Homo sapiens: one gene and its partners. The protein of the gene in region 3 purifies or fractionates together with the protein of the main gene of each other region. This does not show direct contact. Each region holds a gene or a part of one and is shown on either strand. Other genes may lie near its edges. The genes, in order: POU2F2, HOXC13 and FOXJ2.

Region 1 (3,648 bases), on a different chromosome or scaffold from region 3:
TTTCCCTGTGTCTCTTCACATCATCTTCCCGTTATCCATGTCTATGTCCAAATTTGCCCTTTTTATAAGGACACAAGTCATATAGGATTAGAGCCCACCCTAATGACCTCATTTTAACTTGATCATCTGCCAAAGACCCTATCTCCAAATAGGGTTAATCTCTGAGGTTCTGGGGGTTAGGATTCCAACTTACCTTTTTGGGGGGTGGCAGGGAGTGGGGGGAGACACTGCAACCTATAACAGTGCTAAAGAGCTTCCCGGAGTGGTTGTACTAATTTACACTATTTGCTGGAGTATTTTAAAGCTAATTCCAGACATGAAATCATTTGCCTTGGGAGTGTTTTTTGTTTGTTTGTTTTGTTGTGTTTTTTGAGACAGAGTCTTGCTCTGTCACCCAGGCTGCAGTGCAGAGACACAGTGGCATGATCTCAGCTCATTGCAATCTCCGCCTCCGGGTTCAAGCGATTCTCCTGCCTCAGCCTCCTGAGTAGCTGGGACTACAAGTGTGTGCCACCATGCCTGGCTAATTGTTTGTATTTTTAGTAGAGACAGGGTTTCACTGTGTTAGCCAGGATGGTCTCGATCTCCTGACCTCGTGATCCGCCTGGCTCGGCCTCCCAAATTGCTGGGATTACAGGTGTGAGCCACCGTGCCCAGCCAGGAGTGTTTTTAAAGGAGGAAAGACCTGGTCTGGTTTACAATTTTATTATTTATTTATTTATTTTTGAGACAGAGTCTTGCTCTGTCACCCAGGTTGGAGTGAAGGGGCGTGATCTCGGCTCACTGCAACCTATGCCTCCTAGGTTCAAGCAATTCTCCTGCATCAGCCTCCGGAGTAGCTGGGACTACAGGCGTGTACCACCACACCTGGCTAATTTTGTATTTTTAGTAGAGACGAGATTTTGCCATGTTGGCCAGGCTGGTGTTAAACGCCTGGCCTCAGGTGTGTCCGCCTGCCTCAGCCTCCCAAATTGCTGGGATTACAGGCATGAGTCACCACACCCGGCCTGGCTTACATTTTTAAATGATTCTATTTGTTCTGCGGAAATGTTAAAACAAGGAAAATATTTCATCAAGAAAGAAAGGGTAGCCGGGTTCGGTGACTCACGCCTGTAATCCCAGCACTTTGGGAGGCCAAGGCGGACAGATCACAAGGTCAGGAGATTGAGACCATCCTGGCTATCATGGTGAAACTGTCTCTACTAAAAATACAAAAAATTAGCTGGGAGTGGTGGCGGGCACCTGTAGTCCCAGCTACTTGGGAGGCTGAGGTAGGAGAATGGCGTGAACCCAGGAGGCGGAGATTTCAGTGAGCCGAGATCACACCACTGCACTCCAGCCTGGGCGACAGAGCGAGACTCAAAAAAAAAAAAAAAAAAAAAAAAAAAAAAGAAAGAAAGGGTAAATAAAGAGTGAGCCCTCCCAGGACTGCCCAGTTGGGACTCTCTGGTACCCCATGGTAGAGAGAAGCCTCTGGGTGCCCTTAGCTCAGGGATGCCATTCAGAGACCGAGTGGACGATCCCTCACTGCCCAGTGCCAGATCGCCATGTGGAGCAGCTTCCTGGTTTCAGCCCCTCAAGGTTCAGGTGATGCAGAGAGGATGAAACCCAGCCAGGACTCAGGCTATCTTTCTGTCCACCCCACTCCCTGCCAGGACATACAGCAGCTCCTCCAGCTCCAGCAGCTGGTGCTTGTGCCAGGCCACCACCTCCAGCCACCTGCTCAGTTCCTGCTACCGCAGGCCCAGCAGAGCCAGCCAGGTAAGGCCCCCACCCCAGATGGCCTCCCTGACGCCTCCACAGAACTTCCTCACCTTCCCCTCCCCCTCACCCTGTGTATTTCCCCTTGTCTTTCCAGGCCTGCTACCGACACCAAATCTATTCCAGCTACCTCAGCAAACCCAGGGAGCTCTTCTGACCTCCCAGCCCCGGGCCGGGCTTCCCACACAGGTGAGACTGTCCATTGAGTGCACCAGGCCAGGCCAGCAGCAAGGCCTGCTGAAAGCTGGGTAAACGGGGGTGGGGGATGAGTGAGAGTCTCCTTTCCATTTGACCCAGCCACACTCTGCCAGTGATTTGCTGTGAGACCTCAGGCAAGCCCATCTCCCTGTCTGGGTCAGCCTCTTCCTCTATAGAATGAGGGGAGCTGGCCCAGACAAGTGGTTCTTAACCCTTTCTAGTACATGAGCTCCTTTGAGAATATGATGAAAGATTTAGATCTGATCCCCATTCCCCCAAAATGCTCATGTGTAAAAACACACAAAATTGCAAGGGGCTGCAAGCCTTTAGGCTGCAAATGCCTCGGGCCTCTTCCAGCACTGCAACGGAGGATTCTCTGAACAAGGCATTCGTTAGGTGATTATTTCACATCCACTTCCCAGACTGGAGACTGAAAACAAGGCCCACAGGTGTCTTTTATTTGGTCATTGTCAACTAAATTCCCAGAAAGCACCACATTTCCAGCTCCTCTTGATAAACCAGAAAATCTGGCAGGGCTGTACCTGTGTCTACGTGGTGGCTTGGCGCAGTGAGCAGTTGGCCTGGCCACTGGCAGGAGCAGAGGCCCCTTAGAGAGGGTGCCAGCTCTCCAGGCCACCTTGGCACCTGGACCCCGAGGCCTTTCTTTCAGTTTGCTGCCTGAGTTCTAGACTTTAATGATAATTTTCACTACCTTTTATGAATTTCAAAGTTTTTTTCTACCCATTTTTTATAGCCCTTTAAAAAAATATATGTGAACTATTTCAGAAGGACTGACTGAAGAGTTAGAGACTAATACAGGTCTTAACTGCAGTTCTGAAATCCCAAATGCTCAGAAAGTCAAGTTGTTCTTCCACCATTGGCATGAGAACTCATTTGACTGCAAAACCTGCCCTGCCATGATATAAGCCAGTGTATGACTTTTCTTTGTCCCTCTTGGTATGGCATTTTTGCTGCTGCAAAACTGTTACTGTATCTGATTAAGGAGTAATATTCTTGACCCTAGTGGGGGTGGGGGCCGGGCCACATTATCTATGATATACATCCTATGTAGGCTTTCTTTCTTTTTGTTTTTTTTTTTTTTTTTGAGATGGAGTCTCGCTCTGTTGCCCAGGCTGGAGTGCATTGGCTCAATATCAGTTCACTGCACCCTCTGCCTCCCAGGTTCAAGCGATTCTCCTACCTCAGCCTCCCAAGTAGCTGGGATTACAAGCATGCGCCACCACACCCAGCTAATTTTTGTATTTTTAATAGAGATGGGGTTTCACCATGTTGGCCAGGCTGGTCTCGAACTCCTGACTTCAGGTGATCCACCTGCCTCGGCCTCCTAAAGTGCTCGGATTACAGGCATGAGCCACTGTGCCTGGCTGCCTATGTAGGTTTTCTGAAAACTGAAACAGGCACGGTGGTGCATGCCTATAGTCTCAGCTACTTGTGAGCCTGAGGCAAGAGGATCACTTGAGCCCAGGAGTTTGAGGCCAGCCTGGGCAACATAGCAAGACTGGTCTCTAAAACAACAACAACAACAAAACCTGAGAGGGGTGAGAGTGGGTGGATGATGAGAAATTACTTAATGGGTACAATGTACACTGTTTGGGTGATGGATACACTAAAAGCCTACGCTTCATCACTACACAATACATTTGTGTAACAAAATTGCACTTGTATCTT
Region 2 (3,748 bases), about 46 Mb from region 3:
GCTACACTCTCTAATATCACTCAGTATTTTTTTTTAAACCACCTACCTCTTCTTCCAATTCCGTATGCAGAGGAATTTCAGGCCCACCCTTAGGAGGTCTTTGGGTCTATGCTTTCCAAGGAAAACATCCCTGAGCTTGGCACGTGGAGCTGGTCGGGGAGCTGGGCACTGTCGGGAGACATCTGTGGCTGCCCTGGGCCCCCCACCCCCAAAGACCTCTGTAGGTATCAGAAGGGAGAACGCTCTCCCACTGAGCTCTGCTTACAGGGAGAACAGACTCAAATGCTGGACTCCCTAGACCGGAATCCTGATTTCTCAGCACAAGGCAGGATCCAAAGCTCTTGGTGTGGTTTTGGGAAACCTGGGACTGGTCTTGTCCGCAAGGAGAGCGGTGGGATTTACAGGAGCCTTTCTCTCTTCAACTGGAGACGGAACAAGAGGGGAATGAATTCTCCCTTCCCATCCTTAGCCAGACAAGACCAAGGGGTCCCCAGCCTGGGTCTGGACTCCAGAAGCCCCTGAACAGGTCTTGAACAGGTCTTCCTCTCCCATTTCTCATCCCCACGCCCTTCTTTCTGTGTCTGGGGCACCAATAACTAACTCTCTTTCTCGACCACATATGGGGGAGTTGGCAGTGGAAATGTCTATAGGTTTGAGCTCAATATACCAAAGAGGCAAGGAAAACTTTACAATGCTGGGGAGGGATTCTAGCCTCCTCTCCACTCCCTCTCCAGAGATTTTGGATCTTCTGTTCCCTCAACAATCAGGAAATTCGTGGCCAGATTTTTAAAATAAGTCAGGAAAGGAAAAAAATAAATCTCACATTTCTGTAGACCCCAGCAAATTAGTCCCCTATTTAAAAAATACTGTCTAGTGCCTGAACGATCCTGCGAATTCTGTCAAAGAAAGTGGGGGTTCTTATTCTCCGCCCTCCCCAGTTATTCGGTGGGTTGGGGGTTTTGTCCTGGATTCCAAGGCACTATAGGCCCACCCCGCCCCCATCCCTTGCCGGAAGCAGGTTTAGGGGCCAAGAGCCCGGCGGGAGGCTGGAGCCTGCAAGGGGAGGCGGAGGCGAGCTACCGGACAGAGCAGAGCCGGCGGCCCGGCTTTCGGGCGCCTGTGATTGCTTCATTCTCGGCCGGGCAGCTACAGAGAACGTGTCGGAGCAGATTTCTTCCCCGGCGCATTCCTCAGTGCAGCTCGCCCGGCCGGCTCCATAGGCAGCCCAGCCGAGCGGGCGCGCCGGGGCCAGACGGCGGGGGTGGTTGGGGCGCGGAGCCCCGGGGCAGGCAGGGCGGGGAGGGGTCCCCGGCGGCGGCGGCGCTCGGGTCCCTTCCTTACCTGGGAAGGGAGACTTCCAGAGGTGGGCGGACTGCGACTGCTCCTTGGAGCAGTACACCTGACTGTCCCAGCCATTGGAGAGAGCCCAGTGCTGGTAGCCTTCGACGGGGATGAGGGCGTCGTGACGCGGCTCCGGGTGCCCGCTGATCCCGGGCACCACCGACACGTCCAGGTAGCCGGGCATCGCCTGGTAGGAGCTGGCGAAGCTGGGGTAGAAGGCGAACTCCTTGGCCCTAGAGGACAGGTCGTCACCGGGCAGGGCGCCCGACGGCTCCGGGTATTTATCGCCCGGGTGGTAGGCGCAAGGCTTCTGCTGCAGGTTCACGTTGTGCGACAGGCGGCAGCCGTAGTAGCTGCCCCCGAAGGGGTAGCCGTAGCCCAGGGTGGCGCTGGACGAGGTGGGGGGTGCGGGCGGCGGGGCACACTGGCGCGCCGCCTCCGGGGCCGGGATGTCCGTATAGACGGCGCCCTGAGGGGCGCCCAGGGGAGCCGGCGGGCGGCCCAGCACGGGGTGCGGAAGCAGGTCGCGGCAGTGGCTGGCCGGGCAGCTGCTGCCCAGACCATCCATGCTCGGGGCTTTGCCGGGGCTCGCTCCGCTGCAGCCACCCCCCGCTCCGCCCGTGCCGCCGCCTCCTCCTCCGCCGCCGCCGCCGATGCCGCTCTCCGCCGCGCTGTCCTCATAGACGTACATAAGGCTCTCCGGCCAGCGTGGATGCAGGAGCAGCGAAGTCGTCATGACATGATCTGCTGGAGCTTTTTAAAAACTCCACTTGCCAGAGGCAGCGAGCTAGGGAGACACCTCGCTCCTGTTTCCCCTCCCCCCATCCCTCCCCTCTTTTCTCTCCACCCCTCCCCTCCTCCTAGTGCTTCCACCTCCCTCCCTACATTCCCTCTACGCATGCGGAGACACTTCATTAAGAAATCCGCCGGCTCCCGCTCTCCACCTCTCAGCACCCCTCCCGCGCCCACGTGACCCGCTCTGCGCACGTGATGCCCCGGCCAGGTCTCCTGGGGTTCCCTCCCCTCGAGGTGGGGCGGGGCGAAAGGGAAAAAGTCTGTGCTGATTGGATCTCAGGTAGGCCAAAGGAGGCGGGAGCTGGGAGATTTAAAGGGACAGGGAGACGCCCCCGGCAGGCCCCAGGGAGGGAGAGGGAGGGGGGGGAGGCTGAATTTGGCCGACGCAAAGGGGTGTAGGGAGGAGAGCGCTGTAACTGGGCGCCTCCGCCTAGGCATAGGATGTGCACCGGAGAGACAGACCCCCTACCGCCAAGCCGATCACTGTGACTGCTGAAGTCTCTGGATTGGGGCTTGAAGCTAAGGGTGGGGAAGAAACCAGGTTTTAAAAAATAATAAATGAAGATAATAGAAAACAGTCAGGAGCGCTCTGGCCCTGGCAGCTCGCCTCCGCTCGCGGCTGGAAAGAACCCGATGCTGCGTAGCGAGCCTTTGATGCCGGGATTGTGTTTCCATTTCCTACCTTCAGCCACATTCCCCAAAACTCTAGATGTCTGAAAAGGACACTCTGCTTTACCTCGCTGGATTTTTCTCAAGCGGAGAGGGGTGTGACAACCCCCAAATACAGAATTCATCACCTGGGGCAGGGGATCGAGAGGCAATGGAATATACTCGGCAATAAATGGAGAAAGAATAAAACGAGGGAAATAAAAGCAATAGAATAGACTGATATTTCAATATGTAATAGAAATAAAAAATCTCAGAGTGAGGTTTTTCAAAGAAATGCGGGTGGTGGGGGCGCAAGATTCAGCCTGGGAAAGCTAAAAGCCCTGGATGCGAAGGAGAGCGCGCTTTCTATAGGTATACAAAAGAAAACGTGGAAAATGGGGGAGATTCAGTGCTACACCTTTGGAGGGACCTCTCTCTGGCGCCACTCTGGGGGACCCTGCAGAACCCACCTCTGCCCTCAGGGGCCTGGGTTAAGCCACATGACACAGTCCCCAGTTTGAATACCCGCAATGGAGCTCCCACGGCTTTCTTAGGTCACCCTCTTTTAGTGAGGAATAGTTTCATGATCTAAAACTGCCCCCTATTTCAAAGAAAAAATTAACACCAACTTACTGATTCTTCAAAAGCTCTCCCTTCTTTCCTCCCAATCTCCCAACTTGTCAGGAGCCTCAATAGAGTCACCCCTTTCTAAGGGAGCATCTCCGTGGAATTGAGTCAAGTTCCCTTTCAGCACAGGACCTCCCTGAGAAATCGTAATGAAGAGAGAAAAATAAGAGGGGAAAGGGGCTGCAGCGTTTCCTTCTTTCCTCCCTCTGCCACAGGTTTTAAATGCTGAGTGCTCGTGTGCAGCCAGCGCACAGACCATGGCCACAGAGCAGCGCCTCGCTCAGCCAGACCTACTGCACCCCTCAAGTGGAGAGCAAATGGACAGGTCTGCAGAAAC
Region 3 (3,648 bases):
TTTCAGTTTAGGACTTCACTGATTCAACAGATATTCAGTCAACTGATAAACTAGTTCCACTGCTCAATTTGGGTCACTGCCCCATAAAATCCTTTCTCTCAGTTCTCTTTTGCCTTTCTCCTATGCTTCCTTTTCAACATAGTCTCCACCTCCATGGCAACTGGCTTGGTGCAGTACCTTGGCTCATGGCTGACTCCTGTTTGCCACTGGTGAGGGCACAGGAGTCAGCAATACGGGCAGGGGCTGGTGGGCGGTGGGTACCCCCTTGAGGGGGCACGTGACCAGTCTGAGTAAGGAAGTGGTTGAGGGAGTCACACAGATTGGCAATGTGATGCTGGTCGAGGGTCCAGTTCTTCTGCTCTGCCTGTCGTAGACTCTCCATCAGTTCTACAAAGAGGGAAGCAAGCAATGCAAACCTTGCAGAGGTAGGAAGCCCCTATCAGACCCCGCCCTATCTCACTGTTCCAAACACACCATCAATCACCCCCACTGATAACGGGCACTAACAATAACAATTTATATCTTTCAGAGCTCTGCATTTTCAAACTCTCATTCTATTTGATCCCTTACCAAATTCTTATAATTGCCATCTTACTGATGAGTAAGATAAACTTTCAATGTGACTGAGTGACTCAGCCAAGGTCACACTGTCAGTGAGTGGTGACAAAACTACAAAATCGTGGTCCACGGTCTCTAAATTCCTGAGGGCCTTCTCCCTCCCAAAGACAGAATGGACTAGGATTATTCACTGCCACATTTTCAGTTAAGACAAGATTAATTTGAGTTAATTTGAAAATAATGTAAATATGATCCATCTTGTGTAAAAAGAAAGAAAAACAATGAAATCCTCATTTCTGCAACTTCATTTAACCACCCCCTTCCGGTTCCAGTTTCTACTGGGTTTTCCCTTACAGTGTATCCCTCTCTTCCTTCGTCCTTTGATCACTAACCTGAGAATTGTGACTGCTCAATGCTGGACCAATTGAGCCGATTCACCATCTTGAAGCTTTCCTTTAAAGAGTCAATATTAGAGCACCAGTCAGAAGGAAAGGCTGTAAAGAGGAGGGGAAAGTGGATAATAAGATAGAGTGAAGTGTAAGACAGCAGTCAACTGATACCAGGCTGACTACATGCAAGATTCTTGCATCTATACAGATTAGCAGTTGCATTTCCAAGTTTTGGACTCTCCCTCCCTGGGAGTTTAGGACTGGAAAAGCTAGCTACGCTTTAAGTACAGCCAGGCTCATAGTCAGGAGAATATGTAAAACAATCTCAATTGATCCAGGAATTCTATAAGACAGAGCTCTAAGTAGTAACTTTGTTCAGATTAGCTCACATGAAGGAGCGAAGCCTAAAAGACCCATCATTAACTTCCTAACTAACTGCACCTCCATGCCGGTGTTAGGACAAGGACATCACCCCACCCTCCTCTAGATCACTGTGCACCCTCCTTACTCACCAAAGCCAGTGTTGTTGATGGGAGCCTGGCCTTGTGCCTGTGGCTGTGGAGGTGGTGGCTGCTGGGCAGGGTGGGAGTGGGGATGGTGCTGATGAGGGTGGTAGCCTCCATGCTGCAGCGGGGGTGGATGCATGGCCATTACAGGGGGAGGCCCATAGCCTTCCGCCCCAGCTTGCTTTCCCCCTGGTGGGGTACAACCATCTGTGCTTGGGGTGTGCAGTGGAGGAGCACCCCCTACAGCTGAGGGGCCCTGGGCAGGTGCCTGCTGCTGCTGTGGCTGGGACTGCTGGGGAGGTGGCTGTGGCGGCTGCTGCTGCTGCTGCTGCTGTTGAGGTGGCGGTGGCTGCTGCTGCTGATACATGTAGTAGTTGTTCGAGGGTGGGATGTCCCCCAGGAGAGAAGAAAAGCCTGCAGGTGGGGAGGAAGCAGGCAAGTGACTTAAGCAATGCATTTTTCACAAAATGGGATTTTCCCTGGGTTGAGATGGGAAGCCTCAGACTAAAACTGTGGAGTTAAAAGGGTAAGAACATTCTAGGGCAGCAAAGATCCCTGTGGCCCTCCTGGCAGGTACAAGAGACAGGAAGGCACTTAGGTTAGAGGAGGGCCCTGACAGTGTGGAGACCACTGAAATCTTACTAAAAAGGTCAGTGTGTAGCATTTAATGCTACTTTTTAGGGATTTGGCTGAAGGCCTGAAATCACAGTTTCCCAGCAGGTGAACTTTAAAAAGGAAACCATCCCTGGTCATCTAGTGTTTAGGGAAAAAAAAAAAAGTAAATCAGAAACAAAACAAAGCCATCAGTTGTCTACTATCTCCTCTTCCTTCCGTTTTTTGTTTTTTGAGACAGAGTTTCGCTCTTGTTGCCCAGGCTGGAGTGCAATGGTGCGATCTCGGCTCACCGCAACCTCCGCCTCCCAGGTTCAAGCAATTCTCCTGCCTCAGCCTCCCGAGTAGCTGAGACTACAGGTGTGTACCACCACGCCTGGCTAATTTTGTATTTTTAGTAGAGACGGGGTTTCTCCATGTTGAGGCTGGTCTCGAGCTCCTGACTTCAGGTGATCCGCCCACTTTGGCCTTCCAAAGTGCTGGGATTACAGGCATGAGACACCACGACCGGCCCCTTATTTTCTCTACACTCTGCTACTGCCAAGTCATTCCTGTACCCTCTATAAACAAATGTAGCTTGGGTAAGGAGCAGAGACAGGATGGAGTTATTTCTCAAGCAGACAGGCTGGGAAGAACAAAAGTCTGAGACTAGGGGCTTTCGGTCACAATAAAACTTGAGTGAACTCTAGGCTGTCCTCACCCAATCTAATTTTTTACTTTATTTCTGACAGTTTCTCATGTTCCCTCCTCCAATCAACCAACCACCTGAGTCGGATTCATTTTTTGAGCAAATGCTACAGTCTTGGACACTACTCTAGGAATTGATCCCCTGTGATATACAAGAAGAAATTCATGAAAATGAATATAAGTTTTCCAAAAAGTGACTCCTAACCAGTTTTTATCATTCCATTCAGCCCCTGCTGCCAACATAGGGCTACTGCACAGAATGAGAAGGTCTAATGCCTCACCTGAAATCAACTTCACCACTGTCTCTAAGTTATTTAAAAAACGAACACACAGATATTGCAGAGGGCCGAACCAGATGTTCTCTCAAGGGGCCTCCCAGTAAAAACTTTAAGTCATTCTCATATGATAATTAGGAAAATGTGCACGGACAAGATACTAGCTGATATTAAGGATGTATTATCAATTATGTTAGGAATGATAATGTCATGGTAGATAACTAGAAGAAAGTCATCATTTAGAGGTGTATATCGAAGTTGTATTTATGAGTGGAATGACATGGTATATGTGAATTCCATTAAATTACTCCAATTTTTAGAAGGCTCAGTGGTAAACAAAACAAGCCTAATAAAATACTGATAACTTAAAGTTGGGGGATGGAACACAGGGGTTTATTATATTTTTCTCCACACTTTTGCATCTGTTTGCAATTTTTCACAATAAAAGTAACATAAATGTAAATACACTAAAAAGAAACTGTTCTCACAATGAAACGCAGGGATTCTTCAGGAGAGGGTACTGCTGCTGCCCCCTCGTGGTCGTCCTCCAAATGACTCACTTGCAGCCCTAAAATCACTGCCCTTAGTCCTGGAAGGGGCAATCCTCCAATTCACTTTCTG

Evidence for each region.
Region 1: the proteins of FOXJ2 (region 3) and POU2F2 purify together in Homo sapiens (affinity purification with mass spectrometry; one large-scale study listed by BioGRID and IntAct). This does not show direct contact.
Region 2: the proteins of FOXJ2 (region 3) and HOXC13 purify together in Homo sapiens (affinity purification with mass spectrometry; one large-scale study listed by BioGRID and IntAct). This does not show direct contact.

Annotation. Positions count from the first base shown.
Region 1 is NC_000019.10:42,097,829-42,101,476, reverse strand, and holds part of POU2F2 (POU domain, class 2, transcription factor 2), read left to right. Parts: intron 1-1,655; coding exon 1,656-1,761; intron 1,762-1,858; coding exon 1,859-1,950; intron 1,951-3,648. UniProt on the Homo sapiens protein: Transcription factor that specifically binds to the octamer motif (5'-ATTTGCAT-3'). Regulates IL6 expression in B cells with POU2AF1. Regulates transcription in a number of tissues in addition to activating immunoglobulin gene expression.
Region 2 is NC_000012.12:53,937,236-53,940,983, reverse strand, and holds the start of HOXC13 (homeobox protein Hox-C13), read right to left. Parts: upstream 2,154-3,748; 5' UTR 2,078-2,153; coding exon 1,342-2,077; exon of another isoform or gene 1,341-1,341; intron 1-1,340. UniProt on the Homo sapiens protein: Transcription factor which plays a role in hair follicle differentiation. Regulates FOXQ1 expression and that of other hair-specific genes.
Region 3 is NC_000012.12:8,046,101-8,049,748, reverse strand, and holds part of FOXJ2 (forkhead box protein J2), read right to left. Parts: intron 1,868-3,648; coding exon 1,460-1,867; intron 1,053-1,459; coding exon 951-1,052; intron 388-950; coding exon 178-387; intron 1-177.